Homo sapiens: one gene and its partners. The protein of the gene in region 5 interacts with the protein of the main gene of each other region in a pairwise test. Each region holds a gene or a part of one and is shown on either strand. Other genes may lie near its edges. The genes, in order: HTT, SPRED1, CCT5, NF2, KRT33B, ARFIP1 and ABI2.

Region 1 (3,500 bases), on a different chromosome or scaffold from region 5:
AGCTTCATGTCGACCTTTTTGCCATAATTTTTATATAGCCTTTTTTGTTTTTAAATGGTAATTTAGAAAGTCAACTAGGAAAATGTGTTACAGGTTTATCTTCCAGGAGAATAGGACTGGAGTCGAGATCTTGAATGTGGCTTGGAAGAAGGCAAGCCCACCCCAGAGAGATGAGTTGACAGTTGTTTCTGACCACTGCTTGCTTAGAGGGCCTGCGTGTCTGTGACCGCCTAGCTTTGCGCCCCTGACTAGGCTGCCCCTTAATTACAAATGTCTTTATATATTGCTCCAGCTAAGGCTTGGAGTAGTCGGTTAAGAACTTGAACTTCGGTTTTTGCAGTGAAACAGCATTTGAGAATATCACCTTCTGATAAGCCTTATTTTATAAGGTGGGTACTGTAGTGGGAGGCAGTGTGAGAGATGCTTGAAGGATGCACTGCTGTCCTGCATTTCAGCATCTTCAGGATGCTGTGCAGCTGAAACATTTGATAACGGTGGAACTGTTCGTTATTTTGCAAGCCTGTGATTCCCTATTGAATGTTTTCTCTCGCCATTTGACAAATGAGTGTTTCTCTGTCTTCAGCCTCAGTGAAGGATGAGATCAGTGGAGAGCTGGCTGCTTCTTCAGGGGTTTCCACTCCAGGGTCAGCAGGTCATGACATCATCACAGAACAGCCACGGTCACAGCACACACTGCAGGCGGACTCAGTGGATCTGGCCAGCTGTGACTTGACAAGCTCTGCCACTGATGGGGATGAGGAGGATATCTTGAGCCACAGCTCCAGCCAGGTCAGCGCCGTCCCATCTGACCCTGCCATGGACCTGAATGATGGGACCCAGGCCTCGTCGCCCATCAGCGACAGCTCCCAGACCACCACCGAAGGGCCTGATTCAGCTGTTACCCCTTCAGACAGTTCTGAAATTGTAAGTGGGCAGAGGGGCCTGACATCTTTTTTTTTATTTTTTATTTGAGACAGAGTCTCACTCCATAGTGCAGTGGAGGCCGGGCACAGGGGCTCATGCCTGTAATCCCAGCACTTTGGGAGACTGAGGCAGGCGGATCACTTGAGGTCAGGAGTTCGAGACCAGCCTGGCCAACATGGTGAAACCCTGTCTCTACTAAAAATACAAAAATTAGTTGGGCGTGGTGGCACATGTCTGTAGTCCCAGCTGTTAGGGAGGCTGAGGCAGGAGAATTGCTTGAGCCTGGGAGGCAGAGGTTGCAATGAGCCGAGATCGTGACACTGCACTCCAGCCCGGGCAACAGAGCAAGACTCCATTTCAAAAAAAATAAAAAAATAAAGTGCAGTGGCTCGTTCTCAGCCCACTGCAACTTCTGCCTCCCAGGCTCGAGCGATTCTCCCGCCTCAGCCTCCTGAGTAGGTGGGATTACAGGTGGGCACCACCACACTCAGCTAATGTTTGTATTTTCAGTAGAGACAGGGTTTCACCATGTTGGCCAGGCTGGTCTCAAACTCCTGACCTTAGATGATCCACCCACCTTGGCCTCCTAAAGTATTGGGATTATAGTTGTGAGCCACCATGCCCGGCCCTGCCACCTGCCATCTTTTGAGTTCTTCCCTGGAGACCTAGACCTGAACCCTCCTGCTTGTTCTCTTGTTATCTAATACCCCTATTGACAGCGCAGCTTAGATCATTAATGGAGAGCTTGACCTCATCTGATACCTTCACTGAAGGAAACAACTTAGTGTCTTTTGTGTTGAACACTGAGGTAAAAAATTGGAATAGTTGATTATATGAACTCTGCTAAAATTGAGTGCATTTTACATTTTTTAAGGCCTTGTTGGGCCCTGGTTAAATAATTATTTTTAAAAATCCTTAAGGAGCCTATTATAAACAGATCTGTGGTCTTAATGAAATGTGATTAATACTGTGCATTATTTTAAGAACTTTTGACTTTTCAAAAAACTTTTACAACATTTCCCATTTGATAGCGGCATAGGTTTAAGCACTTCTCATCTCTAAGTTAGTGGACAAAAAACCCTCATGGATAGTCTAATAATGTTTGCTACAAGTCCATGTTGAGTTTTATACTCCATTTTATTTTCAGTTTTAAAAACTGTGGTTAAATATGTGTAACATAAAATTTATGTTCTTAACCATTTTTTGCGTATACAGTTCGCTGGTATTAAATACATTTAAATAATGTCATGGAATCATTGCTACCACCCATCTCTGTAACCTTTTGATCATGTAACACTGAAGCTCTGTTCCCATTGAACTCTATTCCTCCTTTCCCGCCAAGTCCCTGGCAACCACGATTCTTCTTTCTGTCTTCTGAATTTGACTACTTTGGGTTCTCATATACTTTAGGAGTCACACAGTATTTGTTTTACTTAGCATAATGTCCCCAAAGCTCATGCATGTTGTAGCCTATGTTAGAACTTCCTAATGTTTCAGGCCAAATACTATTCCATTGTATGGATAGGCCACATTTTGCTTTTCCATTCCTCTGTCCATGGACACTTGTATTGCTTCATGTTTTAGCCATTGTGAATCATGCTGTTATGAACGTGGGTGTACAGATAGCTCCTGGAGACTCTGCTTTCCATTTTTTTGGCTAAATACCCAGAAATGGAGTTGCTTTTACATTCCAATTTTAATTTAAAACATTCATATCATTGAGTGTTTTACTTAATAGTATAGTAGTTAACAAACTTAATAAAATAGTATTTTGGTAATAATTTGCTGGTAGTCCATTGTTCAGTTTTTTTAGGTAAATTACACAGGACATTTCAAGTGGACATGAAACATCTTGTGATGTGGAATCATGCCCCAAGCTGATGGCTAAACATATGAAATACCATACCCTAAATTTAGTAGATTTAGTCTTTGCAATTTAGGAGATAACCTGTTATATTGTTAGGTTTTTGTCGAAAAGCTTTGTCCTCATATTTCCAACTTGCTGTAAAATTTGTTTGTGAAGACAAATATTTTTGTATGGGTTTTTTCTTTTTCATATTAAAAAGAAATGTCCACATTGGAATTTTTTTGGAGTTTTTAGAGCTAATAGAGCTTTTCATAATGTAGTGGGAATGAGTGATCAGTAAGCTCTTAGCAGTTTCCATGCGTGCATTTCTGTGCCTTGAAATAAATGACAGATGAGTACATTTGTGTTCTGTGTGTAAAATGTGCTCTTTCCTCATTGCACTTCCATGTTGGAGGGCTTGTCTCTTGGTGATCACACTTCAAAATTCTCACAGCCCCCCTTGAACCGTTTAGGTGTTAGACGGTACCGACAACCAGTATTTGGGCCTGCAGATTGGACAGCCCCAGGATGAAGATGAGGAAGCCACAGGTATTCTTCCTGATGAAGCCTCGGAGGCCTTCAGGAACTCTTCCATGGGTATGTGGACTACAGGTGATGCGCTACAAAGTGGTTTGTATTCAGACCTGGACATCTTAATTATATCTTTGCTTCCAAGAAGAAGTCCTTTGATACTGTTTTCTGAGTTCTGAATAGCTGATGAAAATGACCA
Region 2 (3,500 bases), on a different chromosome or scaffold from region 5:
TACGTTTCAAAGTCCTGCTGATGCTAGGGCTTTTGATAGAGGTATCCGAAGAGCTATAGAGGATATTTCTCAAGGTAGGTATTCTTGACTATTTTCTTAATTTATTTATCGGTTATATATAGTAGAGGTTATCTTTCTTAAAGTTGACCCAAAGTAGTTTTCACACTTTAACCATGTCAGCTTTTGTGATATGTGACCAGGCTTTGAAACCTCACAATAGATGAAGATAAAATAATAGATTCCTTAACGTGATTTGTATTTGTCACATCATAGTCTATGTCAATTGCATGTATTATCTTGAAGAGTCCATCAACAGCTGACTTCAGATAATTCAAATGTTTTAAAATAAGAGCTTGAAGGAAGAGGGAATAGAAATGTACAGCTGCGAGAATCCCAGTTGGTATTCTACTTGTGTATGTATGACACCAGTCACATCCTTTTTTTGGGTAATTATATAGAACTTGTAATATTCAAATGTATGTAGACTCTAGTTATTCCATGACAAAAGTCTTTACTTGATTGATTTCATTATTGAGGATTGGCAGAGACCACAAGCTCATCTATTCCTTTGTTATCTTGCCAGTCTATTAAAATTATTAACTCAAAAGCATACAGGTTTTGAAGGGAAGAATAATGTTTTTTCATGTAAGACTGGCTTATGCTTACTTAAACAAAAATCACATTAAAACCCATTTCTTCCCATAAAGGAAGAACTAAGACTTGATTTTTTTTTCTAATTAGGAGGAAAATTATTTCAATTTAACTAACTTTCTATATAAAGTAACTGAAAGTGTGCTAGACTACGTTGTGATTTGTGTTATTTTGAAGATGTCATTTTAATAAGAAAATCTGAAAACATAAACTGTGAGACCAGTCACAGGCAAGAACATGGAAATACATTGTACAAATCTGTTTTGATAGTGCATAAAACTGTAGTTAAGTAATTTATTTAGCTACTTTAAAAGATTAGAATTTGGTAAATGAGTAATTTTTTATTCTGATCCAGAAAAAATTACTATGAAGTAATAGTAGCCATTTTGTCTTTATTGTAAGACCCCATAAATTCTCCTTAGATCAGTGTTCTTAACCTTGGCTACACATTAAAATCACCTGGGAAGCTTTTGAAGCTTAAAATGACTAGTCTGCACTCCAGACCAATTGAATCTATCTGGGGAATAGAGTCGAGTCATCCCTTATTTTTCAAAAACTCCAAGAAAGTTCAAATATGGTGAAGAATTGTTCTCTAGTCAAGGAATTGTAATTTGAATTTGAAGAAAAAAAAATAAGAAACTTAAAAAAAAAAATACATGATGTTCTGTGCCTCATTCCACAGAGATTCTGATATATTTTGGTTTGACGCCATACTCTGGCATCAGTGTATTTTTTGACAATTCCTCAGTTGATTCTAACCTTTAGCCAGGTTTGAAGAACCAGTGCTTTAAAGAGAGAGAAAAATAGTATCCATGGCTGCTGGAATTTATATGATTTAAAGTTTTGAATTACTTTTAAGTTTATGCTCATGTACCATAACAGTATACCTCTTTCACTAGGATCAAACAGATTGGGTTTAATGTTTTAAAAAATGATTTATAAGGAGTAGCTTACAAACTTCTAGGTAGAGTAGACTACAGTACTTAGTCTGCCTTGTTATTTTTGAACATTAAAAAACATTAGCTAGCATTATTATCAGCTGCTATATAGACTTTCAACAATCTCAAATTGCTTTTACTCGACCTTCTGTGACAAAAAGATAAAATATGCTGCTCTTTCCAAAGGGCGCATTTCTTCTTATCTCATGCCTACTCCGTGCTAAGCTGTGCCTCTCAAGGGTAGCATGAACTAAGAGTACTTTGCTAGGACAAATCCTTTCTTATTAATTTATTGAAACTAAAGGTACTCTTAACAGCATGAAAATCTGTACAGAGACGTTGATGCAAAAAAGTCAGTAACAACAATTGGCCATTAACTGTCAATAGTGGATTAAAACTCATTTGTTTTCCATCTTAGCTAAAGCAACTAAAATCCTGGTTATGGGTACTAAATACTGTTTCCTGGGTCAAAGCATTTAGAAAAATTGAATAAATCACATCTTAGCATCACCAGAGCAATGTAATTATAATCTGCCTAGTAATTTTGAGTATTTGGGAGAAACTAGGGGCAGGGGTAGCTAGAGATAGTATACTTTCAGAGAAAACATCTCGTTAGTAAGCAGCTGGAAATTTACCTATAGAGGAGGGAAATAATTACATTATTCTCCATTATTCTAACAGGGGCAAATGCAAGTGGCCAGTACCTTAATTGCCAGGCAGTCCAGAAAGATCTCTGATTAGTCTTCTAAAGTATTATAATGACATAATCAATTAGTCATTAATACTGGACTCTAAGACAAAAATTCTATACTTAATTAACTTTTATCTATTTTCTTAGGATGCCCCGAATCAAAAAATGAAGCTGAAGGGGCAGATGACTTACAAGTAAGTAATGGCTTGGAAGGAATTTGTAAACATAAAGGATGTGGAAGAAATCACTAGCCTTATTCAATAAACTTATCAATTACTAAGAATATTTCTAAGACACTCTATTTGTCAGATTTCTCCAGAAGAAAAGAACCAATACAGGTTGAGCATCCCTCATCTGAAAATTTAAAATCTGAAATGTTCCAAAATCTGAAACTTTTTTTCTTTTTGAGACAAGGTCTTGCTATGTTGCTCAAGCTGGTCTCGAACTCCTGGGCTGAAGCAACCCACCCACCTCCCCACAGTGCTGGGATCATAGGCCTGAGCCACCGTGCCTGGCCCCAAAATCCGAAACTTTTTGAGTATGGACATGACACCTCAAGTAGAAAAAATTTACACTTGACCTCATGTGATGAATCACACTAAAAATGCAGTCAGAATTTTGTTTCATGCACGAAATTATTTAAAATCATGTATAAAATTACCTTCAGCCTGTGTGTTATAAGGTGTATAAACATAAATTTCATCTTTAAATTGGGTACTATCCTTAAGATGTCTTATTATGCACATACAAATATTCTGAAATTTGAAACAGTTCTGGTTCCAAGCATTTCAGATAAGAGATATCAATCTTTATATAGAAAGTAAAGTTTCTGGGGTTTTTTTTTTCTTTTTTAAGGAAGTGGTTCATAAGATTGTGGGCTGGGTTGGCAGAATGGGCAGGCACGCTGAAAATTGGCACAAGTTGATGTTGCAGTCATGAGAAGGCCGAATTCTATTTTCTTCAGAGGACCTCAATCTTTTTTCTTATGCCTTTCAACTAATTGCGTGAGGTCACCCACATTATGGAGGATGCCTAACTGCCATATTAAAAGGACATTCAAGCAACACTGTGTAGATATTCATGTGGTGAGGAACTGAAGCGTTCAGACAATAGCCATATTAGTGAACCACCTTGGAAGCAGGTTATTCAGCTCCAAGCAAGCCTTAATAGATGACCAGTTGTGGCATGTTTTCATTGCAACCTTATGAGGAACCCTGAGC
Region 3 (3,500 bases), on a different chromosome or scaffold from region 5:
ACCCCGACCTGCAAATGGCAAAGTCACTTTTCCCAATTAGGAGGGCAACGATCAGGCTGCCCACCCCACCTCTGGTGCTCACCTGGGACTGCCACACCGTGCCCCACAACTCTGGCTTACCTGTCTCCATCAGGCCTCCCAGGCTACCTGCTACTGCCTGGCTCTCCCTCTCTTCCTTCCCTGACCCTCTGGAACTCAGTCCAGAACAGCAGCCTCCTTATACAATCTCTCCGTCACAACCCCGGAAAACCAACCTGCCCCTGCAACCCTCCTCAGATGGCAGCTGCTTTCCCTCTCACATGCTCAGAACAGGAGAGGGTCCTTCTTGCTCCTCAGTCACCTGCAGTGTTCCTCTTTGGGTCCCTGCCTCTCATTCTTTAACATTTTACTATCTAGCCCCATCGTCATTCCCTTCTCATTCTCAGCAACCTGCGCCTCACCAGCACGATCCAGTAACATCCCTGGCCTCTCAATTTATCTGTGGCCCCCCAGCACAGCTGAGGCACCATTCTCATGAAAACTGTCCCACCGGCCCAGATGATGGCCTTTTATTTATAAGCTCCCGCCAGCATGCTTCAATCCCTGAGGCTGGCTCTTCCTTGTACAAGCCAACAATGTTCCTGGCTCAGGAGCATCCCCATCTGTCCTCAGCCTGGAATGCTCCTCCCCCAGGGGCACTGCTCTCACCCTATGTTGGCCTCTCCTTACAGGTCACCTCTCTGACCAGTGTCTGTAATGGAGCTGTACCCACCTTTCTCTTATCTGTGTCTCAAGAGCACGAGCTTGGCTTCATTCCCTGCTGTACCTTTAGTGCCTACAACAGAGCCTGGTATGTCGTAGGCACCAAGAACCGTATCATCAATGAGTACATTCAACAACTTTCCCAAGAACAGACATGAAAATAGTCTCTAGTTGGTTTGCTATGATAAATAATACCCTAACCAACCCACGTTCCTGTCTTCTTGAGTACTGGTGTTTTCAACTCCCAAGGACGCAGCCCCCAAAGAGGAGTTGCTATGTCAGAGAGAAAGCACACCTACGCTAAGGTATTCATGAACCCAAACTAGACTTAACTGAGCAAAGAACTGGGATTACTATGAGTGCATTCTGGTTTAACTCCAGTTACTCATTAACTCTTGCCTAAAAGGTATAGTCAGAAATCTTAAAGGCAAGGTAAGCTAAGTTAAATTTGTCCAGGACGGCAAATATAATATGTACAATTGAAAGCACGGCTTTAGGTAACAGGGTCACTTCTTTCAGGACCCTGAACACACTACCATTTTTTTTGAGACAGAGTCTTGCTCTGTCGCCCAGGCTGGAGTGTAGTGGTGCAAGCTCAGCTCACTGCAACCTCTGCCTCCTGGGTTCAAGCGATTCTCCTGTCTCAGCCTCCTGAGTAGCTAGGACTATAGGTGCCTGCCACCATGCCTGGCTAATTTTTTGTGTTTTTAGTAGAAATGGCGTTTCACCGTGTTAGTCAGATGGTCTCGATGATCTCACGATCTGCCTGCCTTAGCCTCCCAAAGTGCTGGGATTATAGGCATGGCCACTGCACCTGGCCTGAACACGCTACCATTTTAAGACAAAATTAGAATTCTTCCCTGTTTATGCCTTTCTATGCAATTTGGTTTTTTCCTGTGTATGTTTTAGAACTGAAGAAAGACTACACATATTTACTAACCAAACCTAACTAACTGTACCCTTTGGGAGTTTAAATTCCACTGAGGACTCTGGTAAGACTTACTTGTTGAATCATCTCTTCAAATTTCTCCTTTTCGTATTTCTGAAGGGCTTTATAATCTTCGACAGAGGTCACATCCAGCTTATGCTTTGTTTTTGGTTTGGGTGGTTCAAATGGACATGTGAGAATTGCAATCTTCGCATCTTCCACTTTCTATGGGGGAACATAAAGACATTTTAATTGGTGGAATTAAGAGTTAACCAACAGTGCGAAGCTGTGAGATGCAATGGCTCACTTTTGGCATCTGTGGGTGACTGAAATCCTTGTCCACAATCACGCCCTTAATCAGTTTAGTGTCCTCCAGCCTGCCGCCCACTTTGCCTTCTACTTTGATAAGCTCAAAGTCAACGTCTCTCCGCTCCATATCTGCTACAGTGAGGACGGCATTCACAGCAATCTCAGCCATCTGTCGGTGACAACTGTTGACCCTGAGGAAAACACCACAAAACAAACTTCATTGGTTTCACAATTACTGCAACCAAAGCAGGCCACATAACACAATGTTACTCAAAGATATAAATCAAACGATGTTTTGAGTCTTCTAGAGGGGAATGCCATCTCAACCTGCATTTTCAACAGTCTGGGGCAGATTCTTAACCTGTGATCCATGGGCCCTAAAGGGGACTGTATACTTAGATAGGAAAAAATTACATCTTTATTTTCGCTAACTCTGAAATTTACTATTTCCTTCCATTATGAATGTACTCAAGAAACCACTGTAGTCTGGCATGAATTAAGGTCTTCTTAGAATGCAGCACTTTTACAGAATACTGTTACTATTTTACAAGTTCAGAACAGAATGGGAAAGGTAAGTAATCACTCAGGAAGAGTCACTCTTATCTCAATGAAGTGTAGCACTAACCAGGAACTGAAAGGACTGGACAGGGCATTTAAACTTTCCAAGAATTCACCACAACATCCATTATAGATGGAGGGTGTTACCTTTTTGAAAGCTTTGAAACATGTGAATAGACAGTTCAATAAATTAATTTTTGAGCCAAGAAAAACAACTAGGGAAACCTAGCACTTGAAATAATGTCTGAAATCACAGGTTATCTATAAAAGAGAACCATGAAAGTAAACATGTTGTATCTTAAGTAGATGACTTAATACTTGCAAACAGAACAAGGCCAACTTATAAAGCAACAAGAAAACTGATTTGTACACTTCAAGTAATGATGATGTCCTCCTTTCATGAGAAAATAAGTGTTATACTTGTGACAAGAGGCTACCCCTAGGGTACTCACTCTTGCCTAGGGAGCTAGTCTCTGCTGAGATCTGTGGTTAGAGGAGGACAGCAGGCATTGCTGAAGGCTTCTGCTCTAACATAGGCTTTGCTCAGGGGAAAAGGCAACAGAAGCAGACACTTTTCCTGCATTTTCCCTGACTACTCTGAGTTTAGAAGATCCCTCATTCCTTTTTGCTAAAACCACCACAAGCACACAATTGAAAACATCTCTCACTGATTTAATATAATGTAATAAAGCAGCTTACACTGGATTTTTATGTTATATTACGGCAACAGACCTTAAGTCTTTGGCATTGTACATAATCAGCGCACCCCTTGGCTGAGGTTGCTTAGAGTCTCCTGGGAGAAGAGCTGTGTCTTAGTGCCCATAAGACCTGGCAGTAAGCCTGGCAAACGGACATTACACGAACGCTGAAAACACCAGAGACAAGTCGCTTTCAAGACTCTCTTTACTAAATTATAATTTTGGATCGGCAATTTGCTGAATAAAAAGTGGAACCCACCCCCAAT
Region 4 (3,500 bases), on a different chromosome or scaffold from region 5:
TCCTCAGAATGGAATTGGATTAGTGACAGACTTGAGCAGCCGGTTCAGTCGAGAGAGAACTTAATTCCTCCTGTGTTATTCACACGGCTGATTCTAATCAGATGTGAAGAGACAGCTGGAGGAGAGCAGCGGGTCAGCCCATGCCTGGTGCGGAGGCTTCATGTTCTTGTAGGCATCTTCAGGGAACTGGCAGGAGCGCTTTGGGTTGGAGACTCTGAGCAGGGCCCTTGGGTTTATAGCCTGCCCAAGGAACTGGGCCTGGCTGCGGGACTCCCATGGTTGGACCTTGTCTAGATTCAGTGAAAGTTTTGAAGGACAGTGCATGACAGACGTCACTGGTCAGGTTCACCAGAGCTTGGCTCACTTGTCTTCAGAAGGATTCAAAGGCAGTTGACCAGACTTGGCAAGTCCCAGACTGGTGCAGCCACTGTCCTCGAGACCCTGGTTGTACACCCTGAGGTGCTTCTGCTTCATTACCTGCTGAAATTTGGAGACCTCTTCTTCCTGGATAACCTTCAAGATACTCATTGTGCATGCGAGGAATTCCCCGCCCTCCTGGGGGGACTCCACTCCCCAGGCAGGCAAGGTTGGGCAAGGGGAGGGCTGTTGCTGGATTGCCAAAGGGAGCATGGACATTTTTGTTTGGAATTCAGGGTGGGAATGGGACTCACCAGAGTGGCTTCAGTGCTCAACTCACAGTGCAACATAGGACAAGGTGAAGGCCTTCTTGGGAGGCCTCTTCTGGCTCTAGCAAGCAGGTGTTGCTGGGCAGTGTAGAGGGACCCAGGCCGGTTGCTGAGCAGGAAGATGTACCTAACACTGATGGGCCTGCACACCTTAGGGTATGAGAGCATCGCAGGGGAACCAGGAAACTTGTTAGCTGGTTTTCATGTGTTTAAAAAGAAGACTCGGAGGCAGAGTTTATTTTATGAAGGGCTAGCTTTTTGCCATTTCTTCTGAGCTTTTGCCTTTTCCTTTATGAATACTTCCTGCCTATGGGTGTACTGTAAATGTAACAGCCAGTGAGCTTTCTAGAAGCAGCAGATGGTGAAAGATCCACAGGTGAGGAGCCTGCCCACTGGAGGGGCGAGACAGTGCCCAGGCAGGGCGTGCAGGTGGCAGAGCTGTTTGCATGCTCCGCGGGGTGGCTTCCCAAGCTCTCTGTAGAAAAACTGCCTGAGGGCAAATGGCTCCACTGAGCTGCTACCTGCAGGAAAGAAGCTCAAGGGCTCTCCTCGTCTCACTGCCTGCCTTCTTCACCTGCTGGGAGGAGGGCATTGTGGTGTCTGAGATAAAGGATACCCCCAAGGTGGAAGCAGAGCCATGGGGGTGGCCTCCAGCAGCAGGGAGGAGCATTGTGCAGTAAATTCTGACTCCGGGGCTCCTGTGGGGATTGGAACCCATAGGAATTGCACAATGAGGGTAAAGGATGGGGCGGCAGCAGCCAGGTCTGTCTAAGGGGCGAGCAGCAGTGGCCGAAGGCTCCCAGGGCCCTCGGGCAGCAGCCCTTGCTGACCAGTGCAGCCAGGTCGTGGCTGCCTCCAGCTGGTGGGTCTGCCTTCCCCTCTGACCGCCTCAGTGCCTTCTGGAGGACTGTGGCTCTCTCTCCTGCCCAGTGGCTGTGGTGCCTTCCTACTTCTGTGTGGGCAGACTGATTTCCCTCTCTACCTTTACTTGTGGCTGAGGCGAAGCTCCTGCTCTTGCAAGATAAGAGGTGGGGCTGAGGCGCTGCAGTGCAGCTCAGGTGGGGCTCAGGAAGCACCCCACCCACCCCAGAGCACTCTGCATCCTAATAAGCACATGCTCGAGTCACTGGAATCTGGTGCTGCTGGCAGTGCCAGAACCCTCCCCTAGCACCTCGAGGGGACAGCCAGCATGCTCCTCGGGTGGAGGATCCAGGAATTCTTGGAGCCAACATTGCACAAATGGGCAGGAGCCTCTCAAGGCCCCCACAGCCTGGGCTCCCTGCCTGGGGAAGTGGCCAGGCTTCATAGGGGCATCACTTGGCCCGCCTGGTAGGCATGGAGGCCAGTGCCATACGTGACCTTGTTGTTGCCTGCACCCCTTCCTAACGAGCACCCTGCTCCCCACTGGAAGGAGAGGGGCCAGGGCTCCTCCCTCCCCAGGGAGGGGAGAAACGTGATGTTGCTATTAGCAATAACAGCTGCCGAGTTCCCACCATGCGCCAGGTGCAGTGTTGAGTGCATCACACGCGGTTCCCAATTCCTCTGCCTGTCACCCCACGAGGAAGGGGCTGCCATCACGCCCGCTTCACAGTGAGGAACTGAGGCTAGAGGGGAGCAAGTGACCTGCCCAGGGCCACACAGCTGGTCAGTGGCCCAGCTGGGCCTTGCACCAGGCAGCTGACTGTGCCTGTATCTGACTCAAAGTGGCTGTTCTTTTCAGAAACCTGAGCGGAGATACTGGGCTCACATGCTTTCATTTAAACCCTCTCTCATTTTTGCCCCAGTAGTTATCTGGCAGCTAAATCTCTTCCTCCTTTCTTCCCCAGTGACCATTCTGGTTCCCATCATCACAGGGCACATAACTCCTGGCCCTTCTCCTCTGATTACATTTAGGGAGAAGCCCATCCTGATGCAGCTCCCTTCTAGAGGGAGTTCCATTTAGGCAAAAAAGCGCTCTCCATTCCCATCAGAACCGGGCTTTCCAAAGGGCTCTGAAATTGGTTCCACTGAAGAAGGCAGCTGAGCTGCCTCCCCACATTCCGCTTGTTAGTCGGGAACTTCAAGGCCAAAAGATTTGGCAGGATTTAAAGAGTTGCTCTCAAGCTGTCTCATTCTGAGCACACTAATGCTGTCTGTCTTCTGATGGTGAAGTGGTGGGTTTGGAGTCTCCCTCCCCTGCCCTTTATGGAGCCGCCGATAGTACCGAGGACTCTTCACATGCAGACTCGAGGGGTCCAGAGAATGGGCCAGACCATCTTGCCTGCCCCATGGCAACCTCCAGAGGAAAGAGGCTCAGAGAGGTCAGGGGTGTCTGCAGTGAGCTGCTGATGGCAGAGAGTGAGCTCTCGGACCTTCTCAGCCGGGTGTGGAGCTCTTGCCTCTCCCGCGAACCTCAGTTTAGTTATCTTCATAGCCCACGTCCTGGTCGCTTAACAAACATTGAGCTCCTGATCGGCACATAACACTAAGCCAGATATTTGGGGGATATGAAGATGAATGGTACAGACTCCCTCCCCTCCACCCCCGCACTCCTGTGGGAAGTCCCGGAGCTGGAAATGGAACACAGTCACACCCAAGGCATTGATTTCAGGAGTCAGCAGAGAGCAGGGAGTAGGGAGAGTGCTGGCTCCAGATGCTTCTATCCAGGGAGATGCTGGGAAGTGGCCCAGAGTCAAGGGCTTAGGAGGTTGCAAACCTCACTATGCCAAGAGCTCGGTCCCTGATCCACCCCATCCCCTTCCACATCTCCCTGACTGTCCTTCTTTACATTTGCTGGGCAGAGTGCCACCTGTGTGCACCAGCCCTCCCTGCCTG
Region 5 (4,098 bases):
TTCATAGTTCCATCTGGAATGCATGAGAGTAGAGCATCTGCTTGCCAAAATGTGCCAATGGTCATAAAATGCCACTTCATGCACATGACATAGTGGTGGATTTTCAGGGTCATATCCTTTGGAGAGCTAGGCTTGGGTATTTCTCCCTCAGATCAACCAAGGGTTTCCTTTTTTTTTTTTTTTCAAGCTTCTAGTGGGTATGAGGCATTTTCACTTAGTAAACTTCCTTCCTTCAGCATAGAAGTGACTTTTGGTTCTTTAATAAGTAAAAAACAGGCTTGTTATTTTTTGGCCCATTCTAATTTAGGATATTGTCAGCACTGATTGAGCTCAATGGAGCTCAATCTGTATTTTTTGCATTATTGCATCTCAGTACTGAAAAGATTGGAAGAGAGAGACATGTAATATGACAGAGTGTGGACATTGGAATTAGAGAGATCTGTATTTGAACCCTGGCTCCATCATGTAGGAGCTCTGTGACCTTGGGAGACCTCTCAGAGGCTTAGGGTCCTTATCTACAAACCCTTGCAGCATTTTGAGAGGACTGAAGGAGCTGGTGCATATGAGGTGCCTGGCACTGTGCCTGGTGCACAGTGGAGGCTCAGCAAGCAGGACCCATCACCAATGACAGAGTCACGCTGTGCACAGGCATGGAGCACAGTGCTTCATGCAGAGTAGGTGCTCCCAAAATTTAGGTTTCTTAATGTTCTGTGAACACTGAATACTAGTAGAAACGGAGGTGGGTGGCTTCCTGCAGCCCCATAGGAAGAGGGTAGAGTTGCCTCCATCTGCCTGGATGGAACTGCAAATGGGCCTTGAACCAATGGCCTTGTAAGTCCTTTCTCATTTCAGCTTCCAGGATTCCCTATCACATAGTCTAGTTTCTAGACGGGTTTCCTTACATGGCTTTTCTCACAGAGTCTTAATTGAATATGAACTGGATGAGACACAAGCCTTTCCTCATTTAGGAGAAAGAGGCACATATGTGCCCCCTACTCTGGGGACAGGGCCCAGCTGTCACTCTAGCTCAATGTCCCATGGATAAGCACTGCTACAGGCAAGGTTGGTCACTTTGAAGCCAAACCATGAAGCTCTTACTTAACCAATCAGCATGTTTTGTGAGGAGTCCTGACTTAGCAAGAAGCCAGAGTAAAACATTTAATGAGGTATAGGACTCAGGTGAAGTGGCTAAATAACAAATGGAAAAATCAGCAAAGGAGGTAAAAAGGAGGAATACTTGACATGGTTGCCACACCCACTGCTAACAGAATATAAAGCCCTGGAAAGGACCAAGGCTTATCCCAGGGAAAAGGAATCAGGTTTTGAAACTGACTTCCAGAGCTCCACTGCCTCCCTGCACCATGCCCTACAACTTCTGCCTGCCCAGCCTGAGCTGCCGCACCAGCTGCTCCTCCCGGCCCTGTGTGCCCCCCAGCTGCCACGGCTACACCCTGCCCGGGGCCTGCAACATCCCTGCCAATGTGAGCAACTGCAACTGGTTCTGCGAGGGCTCCTTCAATGGCAGCGAGAAGGAGACTATGCAGTTCCTGAACGACCGCCTGGCCAGCTACCTGGAGAAGGTGCGTCAGCTGGAGCGGGACAACGCGGAGCTGGAGAACCTCATCCGGGAGCGGTCTCAGCAGCAGGAGCCCTTGCTGTGCCCCAGCTACCAGTCCTACTTCAAGACCATTGAGGAGCTCCAGCAGAAGGTGAGGAGGTGGGCACCACACTGCCAGCTTAATGAACTACTTATCTATATTTGACATACTAAACTGTGAATGGATCTAAGTCTGTTCACAGTAATGCTGAGAATGATAAAGACATAGATTCACTGGCTTAGGTATGACATCAAGTAGTCTTAGAAAATCTGTTGTAGAGCCACAAAGGAAGGATGCAGGCTGGTGTTAGAGTGAAGCATTAGACCAAAATCAGTCATAGCAATCTTATATGGCGTCTTACTCCAAACCAGAATATCTGATTTTTTGGTTTGATTATGATACCCTGGTTTTGTTTTCAGAGCATTACCGCATTTTCAAAAAGTATGCACCTGAATTATTTTCTATGCTAAGAATTTCCTAAGTAAATCTTCAAATATTTAAAGCCTTTCAAAGCTGTAGCAAAATATAGCATTTATGGCAACACAAGAGAGCTGTTGACTCCAGCAATATCTACAGACACATGGACCATCCTCTAGAGCAGCCATGTGTACAGATGACAATATGGGGCCATCTGTTCTGGAAGAGAAGTAGATATAAGTAAAGAGTCCACAGAGAATTGGGACTGAATACCTGGTGTAGGTTTGGGAGGGATCCCAGAAGAGGCAATGTCTGAGTGGGGTTTGAAGGATGAGTGGGAGTTTATATCCAATTGTACAAGCCCTTGATTCTGGGAGGGAATTGACTGCCCACTGTTCTGTAGATCTGGAAAATTAGATGCCAGAAAGGGGTTGTGCTATTTGAATATCATTCATTTATTTACCCAGAGTTGGAGAGTGTTAGGCACAGTGCTGGGGTGGGGGATAATGTACTGAGTAAGACAGTCTCCTTCCTTCAGGAGCTCACAGTCTAACAGGGGAGATAGATGTGGAAACAAAATGATCACACAAAGGTCATAAGAAGTGTTATTGATTAAGTATGTGGGTTACACAAGGGGTCTTGCTAGTGGGTGAGGGCATTCTGGGTACAGCAAGAAGCTTTTTGCAAAGGCATGAACAAGGGCAATATGAGGGGAGAGTGGAGAGAAGTTAGCAGGTGGAATGTGTTGGATAACCAAGTTGTTCTGGCTTGCCTGGGATTTTTCCCATTTTAGCATCCCAGAAACCCCTCAGTCCTAAGTTAACTGGGATGGTTGGTCACCCAACCGAAGGGTTGGATACCCAGTAACCTAATTATTGCAGGAAGCCAGAAGCAGATAAGAATAGAATTCATGATGAATTCACATTGGTTGTCCTGGTTTTGAAATGATCAGTTTTATGATCAAATCCTCCTTTTATCTCAGAGCTGAAAATCTGAAAGGACTCAAAGCTATTTGGGAGGAATGTGGCTGAAAGAAAATAGCATTTCACTTTAAGGCACAAGGCATTTCTTAGTATAACCCATTTCATGATTAATCCTATCCCCAGATCCTGTGCAGCAAGTCTGAGAATGCCAGGCTGGTGGTGCAGATCGACAATGCCAAGCTGGCTGCAGATGACTTCAGAACCAAGTAAGATTTTCCTAACCATCAGAGCAGTCTAGTAACGGACAGGCTGAATTACAAAGTGATGAGCTCCCTATCCTGGAATGTGGAAGCAGAAATTTCTATTGGGAGGATTCTTGCATTGGGTTAGGATTAGGTTAAATGTCAAAGCCTCTTCAATAGGTGCTCAGATTCTGTGTTTTAAGTTTTTTTTTTTAATTTTTTTATTTTGAGATGGAGTCTCCCTCTCTCATCCAGGCTGGAGTGCAGTGATGCAATCTTGGCTCACTGCAACCTCCGCCTCCCGGATTCAAGTGATTTTCCTGCCTCAGCCTTCCTCGTAGCTGGGATTACAGGCATGCGCCAGCAGGCCCAGCTAATTTTTATATTTTTAGTGGAGACCGGGTTTTACCATGTTGGTCAGGCTGGTCTTGAACTCCTGACCTCAAGTGATCCACCCGCCTCAGCCTCCCAAACTGCTGGGATTACAGGCGTGAGCCACTGTGCGCAGCCCTGTGCTTTAAGTTTGATTGTAAGACACCATCCATTCTTACTCCTTTTCAACCCAACGTCTGGAGTAAGTTTGAAAGTGATTTTCACATTGGTCTCTTTGTATACGTTAGTCACTGTCAACCCCCCAAAAAGAAGTTATTAAACCACAAAAACAGGAGGCAAAATCCATTGCCTTTCAGAGAATCAATCAATACTTTTAGGTATGACCATTATTACAATCATGAGAATCCTTTGCATTTTCCTGGGATCTTACATTTTACAACATAATTTTACATATATCATCTTCAGTCCAACCCTATAAGGTGTTAGTTTTGTCTTCATTTTACAGTTAAGGAAATCAAGCCTCAGAGAGATAAAGGTATCTATCTACAGTCATTTAATGAGAATACTGGCTCTAACTCTGAATTC
Region 6 (3,500 bases), on a different chromosome or scaffold from region 5:
CACTTTTAGTGTACTCGACAGATTATCTCTGAGAAGCTAGGCCGTGGCTCAAGAACTGTGGACCTTGAACTTGAAGCTCAGATTGATATATTAAGGGATAACAAGAAAAAATATGAAAATATTTTAAAACTGGCTCAAACATTGTCGACCCAGCTTTTCCAGATGGTACATACCCAAAGGCAACTTGGAGATGCATTTGCTGACCTGAGTTTGAAGTCACTAGAACTTCATGTAAGATTATTCTAAATAACTATTAGGGATGGGAGAAAATGATAATAGAAGTATTCTAAGAGGTAATTTGTTATTGTGATTTGCTGAACTCTTAATGAAGATGGAATTCTGAGATTCTCTTTTAAGATATTTCATATCACTTTAAGAAGGCCCTCTTAAAGTGATATGACTTCTGTTAACTTTACTTTTTATGAATTATCATATGTATATAAATCTTTCATATTTTTCTTCCTGTTTGTTAATATTTTATTTTGCCTTTTACTCCTTAATCAATATCAAGGGTTACTGTTGTAATATGTTCTGTTAACTTTTTCTAAAAGTTGTAAAAATGTTGTTTTCTGTATTATTCTATTTCCAGTAACATTTATGTAGACTTCAGTGAAGTGTGTAACTTAGCTTGTGGAAATTTGGTGCCAAAAATCTTAAGCTGTCCTGCTTTTCATTTTAGTTTTTACATGCATTGATTGGTAATCTTTTTATGTGGTCCTTTATCTGCCAATATTTGCAACAAATCAAGGTCTATAATATTTTGAAGACTGAGTACAGAGTGGAGTTACATGGACATCTCTTAAATGGAAAATGGTTTTAGCATAATAAGGATAATTTTACTTTCCTGCTATTTTCTGAATTATTGAATACTTTGTCACCTAAGAAACGTAATTACAGCTATTGCAATAGCATTAAATTTGTATCTTCTAATATTTTAGTTAATTTAATATTACATTATTTGTTTCAACTGAAATTGAAAAGTGTTTTGTAACAAACTGGAGAATTATCAAATTAAATGATACATCTTAGAATATGTGATCGGTTTTTTATTTGGTTAGGTGCATCCTGATTAATCTGTTAATTAGTAAAACTTGCACTGGAAAGCTTTCACTGCTGAATATACAGAGCTAGAGTTAGTTCTTGCCATATCTGAAGGAGTCATGTGTAATGTTTACTGCACCAAGATGCAGTTTATTCAAAAAGAATGAACTAAAGCTGGTGTTGAGTGATCCTTCCTCAGTTGTGTGCCTAAATAGAGCTGAGCTTGGGAGTCAGCTAGTCACCAAGTTTACAAAGAAATATGTATTGTTAATATTTATACTTTGAGGAGAATCAGTCAAAACACAAAAAAAATGCACTTTGTTTTATGTCTGAAAGTTTTAACCAATTATTACCTAATTTGGCTGTGAAAGTTATAGTTTCTCTGATTAATAATCTGCTCTATTTTTCTTTCCAACAGCTGTGCTTATAGTATAATAGAAACAAAATGTAGAAATGAAAATATTGTTTCTACTACAAAGTAACTTAAAAAAATTATTTAGCTTTTAGGTATGTATCTGAGCTGATGACAATTTTGGTTTATTAGACTTTTTCAGTAATTATATGGCTAGCTGTGATTTCGATTCTTAAAGACGGAAAGGAAAAGTAAAACTGCTACAGCTAGATCTCTATCTAAATCACATATTTTCCCATTAGTGACGTGCTTGAGATTTTTAAGTCACTTTTACTGATTTATTACTGAATAAATTAAGGTGACTTCTTTGTTTTAGGAAGAATTTGGCTATAATGCCGATACCCAGAAACTGCTGGCTAAAAATGGAGAGACTCTTCTTGGGGCCATTAATTTTTTCATTGCTAGTGTGAACACTTTGGTGAATAAAACCATTGAAGATACATTAATGACTGTGAAACAGTATGAAAGTGCCAGGTAAGGTATACATTTTCACTGTGTTGTCTGTTTTACAGATGGCATATAATTCAGTTAATTTTTTGGTTACAAACAACAGAAACCAACTCTGGCCAATATGGGCAGGAAAAAAATGTACTGGAAAGTTATAGGATGCCTCTACAGACCTGGCAGAAAGGGAGAGAACAAGATTCTGGAAACAACCAAGAACCAAAGCCAAGTTAAGCCTCAGAAGAATCTAATTAGAACCCCTATGCTGGGTGCCTCTAGTACTTGATGCTGCCACAGCTACCATAAATAATTTCCTAAATACCCATGAATACTTGCTTCATTGCCTTGAGATTATCTAATTGAGCCTTGGTCATGTGCCCAAACCCTGCCTTCTAGTGAGTAGGGAAATGGAGGATCTCCCAGCTCTGGCTTCTTTAGAAGAGGACAGGGCCCTATGTTCTACCAGGTAGGTATTACATGGTCCTCTATACTCTCGCCTAAATTTACCTTTCATCCTTATTACCACTGCTTCCACAATAGCCAGACCCATACTTTCAGTTTCTATTGAATAAATAAGCTCATTTTGCCTCCATGATTTTTGTTTGTTAGGATATCAGTCATCTTCCATTTATCCAGATTATAACAAGCCTTCAAACCCTTTCAAATTTTACCTTTTATATAAATTAAATATTTGACTTGTATTTTGATAACTGTTCATAATGCAGTGTTTTTATACATCCTATTTTAATGGGTTTTTGTATATCCATATTCATATATATATGTATATATACAGTTTCCCTGTCTCATAACTATCCTGTTAAATGGTGAACAAAATATATATTAATAAATATATTAATAAATATTTTGAAGGGTCTAAAATATGGCAGACCTATAATAGCCTTTTTCACCTTTTGATTCCAGGCCCAATTTTTTCCCCATATGCCCTACCCCTTTTATTTAAGTATCATTCTAGTCCCTTTTGAGGTTTTTTTCTTTTGAGCACTCAAAATTCTTATTTTCCATTATACTTTTTATGCATAGTTGAAGATAAACTTTACCTTTTAGAAGGATAACTTTACTCTTTGGCCTCTTATCCTAGTTTAATGGTATGAGAAATACCTGTAAAAAACTCCAAACTCATCTAGTATTTTTGCAATTGAGTGCTTATTAAATATATATTTCCTTACACTTCAATTAAGTAAAAGCCCAAATCATTTTGAAAAGTTAATTTTTGATGTTTTCACAGGAAGAGATGCTTCTGTCCCATACCATGTTTATTTTGTCATTTTCCATTTAGTATTAAAGTATGAGATTCTTATTGACTTGAAAATGAAGGTCAAACAGCTGTGGTTGTATGGAGGGGTAAGGGTGAGGATAGCTGTTAGTAAGATAGCCTTCCGTGGAAATCTCTTCAATAACATTCTCAGTAATTGGTGTTTCAGTCTCAGTGTAAATCCTTTCATGGAAATTATATTTTTCAAAGGGTTCATTATGTATATGAATTTTAAAATTCATTTATATAAGTTTTACTTGATCCTTTTCTAAATTTTTCTGTTCCTTGTTCATAATGTCCTAATTTGTTCATAATGGTACTGTTTCTTTT
Region 7 (3,500 bases), on a different chromosome or scaffold from region 5:
TCCAAGGGGGATGGTGTTAAACCATGAGAAACCGCCCTTGTGATCCAGTCACCTCCCCCTAGGCCCCACCTCCAACATTGGGGATTACAATTCAACATGAGATTTGGGCAGGGACACAGATTCAAAGCATATCAATCACCGTAGTGTTCCACTTGCCAGTGAAGAACTTCATGGCATTTATATTCAGCTTTGCTGTTATACATGTTAAACATATATAAGATCTTTACATGTTTTAAAAGACACTTTTAGCCAAAATGGATTTTGGGTGATGTCTTGTGGGATTCCTTCTATATGACTTTTAAAGAAAAGCTTTCTGCAGTAGATAAATGTAAACATGGGGTGTTTTTTGATCCAGATACAACTGTTAGGCCAAACTAACTAGTTAAATATAGGAATCTCGTTATGCTCCTGCTTTGATAAAGAATGCATCAGAAAGGACAAATCACCCCCAACTGAGAGTCTATGTTTTAGTAATTAAATATTAATTGAATAACAGGTGCCTGGCTCAGTGTTCACTAAATAAACATTTGTTATGTGAGGGGATAATTAACTGTGGTTTTTAAAACAAAAAGCAAGGTAAATGTCTTATTAATAATTTATATCAGGATAGTCTGTTTTATACAGTACCTGAGTTACCAAGCAATTGTTTTTCTTTTTACCAAGGTATAACTTATGTACAGTAAAATTCACCCTTTATACCATATATGTTTGTGAGTTTTGGCAAAGGTGTACTGACATGTAATTGCCACCACAATCAAGTTACAGAACAGTCCTATCATCGCAAAAATTTCCTCCATGCCCCCTTTATAGTCAGTCCTTCCCTTCCACTCCCAGCTCCTGGTAAGCCCTTGATGTGTTTTTTTTCTCTAAAGTTGTGCCTTTTTAAGTATAACATAAATGAAAGCATATAGTATGTAGCTTTTTTGATCTGTTTTTTTTGGCCAGATGCATTTGAGAATTACCCATGTTGTTGCATGTTTAAGTATTTCATTACATTTTATTGCTTAGTAGTGTTGTATTGTATGGGGATGTACCACAATTTGTTTATCCCTTTCTCAGAGGACATTTAGATTTTTCTAGTTTTGAGTGCTTATGAATAAAGTTGCTATAAACATGTACATACAGGGTTTTTTTTGTGCACATGGGTTTTTATATCAGGTAAATACCTAGGGAATAGAATTGCTGGGTTATATTGTAAGTAAATTTTTAACGTCATAAGAAACTGCCAAGTTGTTTTCCAAAATGGCTGTATAATTTTACACTCCCAGCAGCAATGTGTGAGTTTCCAGTTGCATCCTTGTCAGCCCTTGGTGTTGCCTTTTTTAGCTTTAGCCATTCCAATACATGTGTAATGGTTTCTCATTACATGTGTGGTTTGGATTTGCATTTTCTTAATGACTAATGATATTGAACATTTTTTTCATGTGCTTATTTGCCATGTGTATATCCTCTTTGGTGAAGTATCTGTTCAAATGTTTTGTTCCTTCTCACCTTTTTAATAGGGTTTTTTTCCTTATCATTGAGTTCTTTTATATTCTAAATATATGTCCTTTATAGATTATGAGTTACAAATATTTTCTTCCATTTTGTGATTCGTTTGCTTATTTTCTATTTTTTTGGCGGGGGGAGGAGGGGCGGGCGGACAGAGTTTCACTCTTGGTGTCCAGGCTGGAGTGCAATGGCAGGATCTCAGCTCACTGCAATCTCCGCCTCGCGGGTTCAAGCGATTCTCCTGCCCAGCCTCCCAAATAGCTGGGATTACAGGCACCCACCACCATGCCCAGCTAATTTTTGTATTTTTAGTAGAGACGGGGTTTCACCACGTTGGCCAGGTTGGTCTTGAACTCCTGACCTCAGGTGATCCGCCCGCCTCAGCCTCCCAAAGTGCTGGGATTACAGGCGTGAGCCACTGGGTCCAGCCTGTTCATTTATTTTTTTGATGTTGTATTTCAAATAGCAGAAATTCTTCATTTTTATTAAGTGTTATTTTTCAAAATTTTTTTAAATGAATCGTGCTTTGATGGCATATCTAAGAACTCTTTACCTGAAGTCATAAAGATTTTGTTCTGTGTTTTCTTCTAGAAGTTTTTAGTTTCAGGTTTTATCGCTAGGTTTATGATAATTAGGTATATATATTTTTAAAACCCCAAATGGTAAATCGACTCATTAATAGTGTGAATAGTGTCTTTTTTTTTTTTTTTTTTTTTTTTTTTTGAGACAGAGTCTCACTCTGTCACCCAGGCTGGAATACAGTGGCAATCTCGGCCCACTGCAATCTCCGCTGCCTGGATTCAAGTGATTCTCCTGCCGTAGCCTCCTGAGGAGCTGGGATTACAAGTGTGAGCCACCACACCCAGCTAATTTTTTGTATTTTTAATGGAGACAAAGTTTCACCGTGTTGGTCAGGCTGGTCTTGAACTCCTGATCTGAAATGATCCACCCGCCTCCACCTCCCATAGTACTGTGATTAAAGGCCTGAGCCACCATGCCCAGCCCATGTGAGGTTTTAGACTAGATCTAACTATATAAAATTCATAATGATGTTAATCCAGATGTTTTTAACTTGATCGTAGGTTTGTATTAGTTTGCTATAGATTAATTACTGAAATGCTAATTGTATTCAGTGGTTCAAATAACTAAATATGCCTTTTAAATCATAGTTTATATGTTTTCATTTTTATCATGGTTACAGAGGCTTCTCAGTTGATAGTGGATTATGTTTAAGCTTGAGTGCTTAAGTTTTTGATACACATGTAAGATGTTTAAATGTTATAACAAGCCTTGAGTGCTCTTATAATCCTTATATGACTCCATATGAATCTAAGCTTGGTAAACTTTCAGCTCCTGTAGAACAATTTTAGTCATATAAAACCATTTTATAATCATAGACAAGATGAAAAATTGTCAAAGTGTTGTTTTCCTCTAATACTTTTAATTAAAATTACCAAGAAGATAGTCTCATATTAAGGTAGAATAAAGATGGTAAGACTCAGCTGAGAAATATGAAGCCTGGAAGAGGATATGACTGCAGTGTTTGATCATGAAGATTTCAACAAATCAAGCATTCATCAAATTCCATATTACATAAGTCTTATCTCACTGTGTTTCAAGTAGTTTATTTTAGAATTTAAAAAATTTCAGGATAACCTTAGGCACAAATGGATAGATGAGTGTGCCAGGTATCATCTGTTCCTCCAGTCCCCCCTCCTCTACTCTCCCCTCTTCTCCAGTAGGCTGACCTCCATGAAATGTTTCAGTGGATTCTTTTGCCCTCTGGCTTCCTGTTGGGTTTAGCAAAAGTGTTTTTTTTTTCCTTTTCACTTATCTCCTCCTTTTCTCCCTTTCTCTTTCTCCTTTCCTTTCCCCTCTGCTATCCTCTTGCCCTCCTCCACCTTCATCTCCTCCTCCTCTACCTTCCTGTCCCCTTTCCGCTTTCTTCTCCACCTGCTTATTTCTCCGCCTCCTCTTCTCTCTTGCCCTCCCCTTCTCCCTTGTCTGCT

Evidence for each region.
Region 1: the proteins of KRT33B (region 5) and HTT interact in binary tests that used the Homo sapiens proteins (3 or more experiments, as listed by UniProt).
Region 2: the proteins of KRT33B (region 5) and SPRED1 interact in binary tests that used the Homo sapiens proteins (3 or more experiments, as listed by UniProt).
Region 3: the proteins of KRT33B (region 5) and CCT5 interact in binary tests that used the Homo sapiens proteins (3 or more experiments, as listed by UniProt).
Region 4: the proteins of KRT33B (region 5) and NF2 interact in binary tests that used the Homo sapiens proteins (3 or more experiments, as listed by UniProt).
Region 6: the proteins of KRT33B (region 5) and ARFIP1 interact in binary tests that used the Homo sapiens proteins (3 or more experiments, as listed by UniProt).
Region 7: the proteins of KRT33B (region 5) and ABI2 interact in binary tests that used the Homo sapiens proteins (3 or more experiments, as listed by UniProt).

The regions. Positions count from the first base shown.
Region 1 is NC_000004.12:3,126,681-3,130,180, forward strand, and holds part of HTT (huntingtin), read left to right. Parts: intron 1-583; coding exon 584-924; intron 925-3,243; coding exon 3,244-3,367; intron 3,368-3,500.
Region 2 is NC_000015.10:38,322,336-38,325,835, forward strand, and holds part of SPRED1 (sprouty-related, EVH1 domain-containing protein 1), read left to right. Parts: coding exon 1-74; intron 75-2,427; coding exon 2,428-2,474; intron 2,475-3,500. UniProt on the Homo sapiens protein: Tyrosine kinase substrate that inhibits growth-factor-mediated activation of MAP kinase. Negatively regulates hematopoiesis of bone marrow.
Region 3 is NC_000005.10:10,256,780-10,260,279, reverse strand, and holds part of CCT5 (T-complex protein 1 subunit epsilon), read right to left. Parts: intron 2,170-3,500; coding exon 1,977-2,169; intron 1,895-1,976; coding exon 1,745-1,894; intron 1-1,744. UniProt on the Homo sapiens protein: Component of the chaperonin-containing T-complex (TRiC), a molecular chaperone complex that assists the folding of actin, tubulin and other proteins upon ATP hydrolysis.
Region 4 is NC_000022.11:29,690,633-29,694,132, forward strand, and holds part of NF2 (merlin), read left to right. Parts: intron 1-3,500. UniProt on the Homo sapiens protein: Probable regulator of the Hippo/SWH (Sav/Wts/Hpo) signaling pathway, a signaling pathway that plays a pivotal role in tumor suppression by restricting proliferation and promoting apoptosis.
Region 5 is NC_000017.11:41,367,014-41,371,111, reverse strand, and holds the start of KRT33B (keratin, type I cuticular Ha3-II), read left to right. Parts: upstream 1-1,298; 5' UTR 1,299-1,361; coding exon 1,362-1,709; intron 1,710-3,121; coding exon 3,122-3,204; intron 3,205-4,098.
Region 6 is NC_000004.12:152,880,954-152,884,453, forward strand, and holds part of ARFIP1 (arfaptin-1), read left to right. Parts: intron 1-9; coding exon 10-231; intron 232-1,769; coding exon 1,770-1,927; intron 1,928-3,500. UniProt on the Homo sapiens protein: Plays a role in controlling biogenesis of secretory granules at the trans-Golgi network. Mechanistically, binds ARF-GTP at the neck of a growing secretory granule precursor and forms a protective scaffold.
Region 7 is NC_000002.12:203,397,894-203,401,393, forward strand, and holds part of ABI2 (abl interactor 2), read left to right. Parts: intron 1-3,500. UniProt on the Homo sapiens protein: Regulator of actin cytoskeleton dynamics underlying cell motility and adhesion. Functions as a component of the WAVE complex, which activates actin nucleating machinery Arp2/3 to drive lamellipodia formation.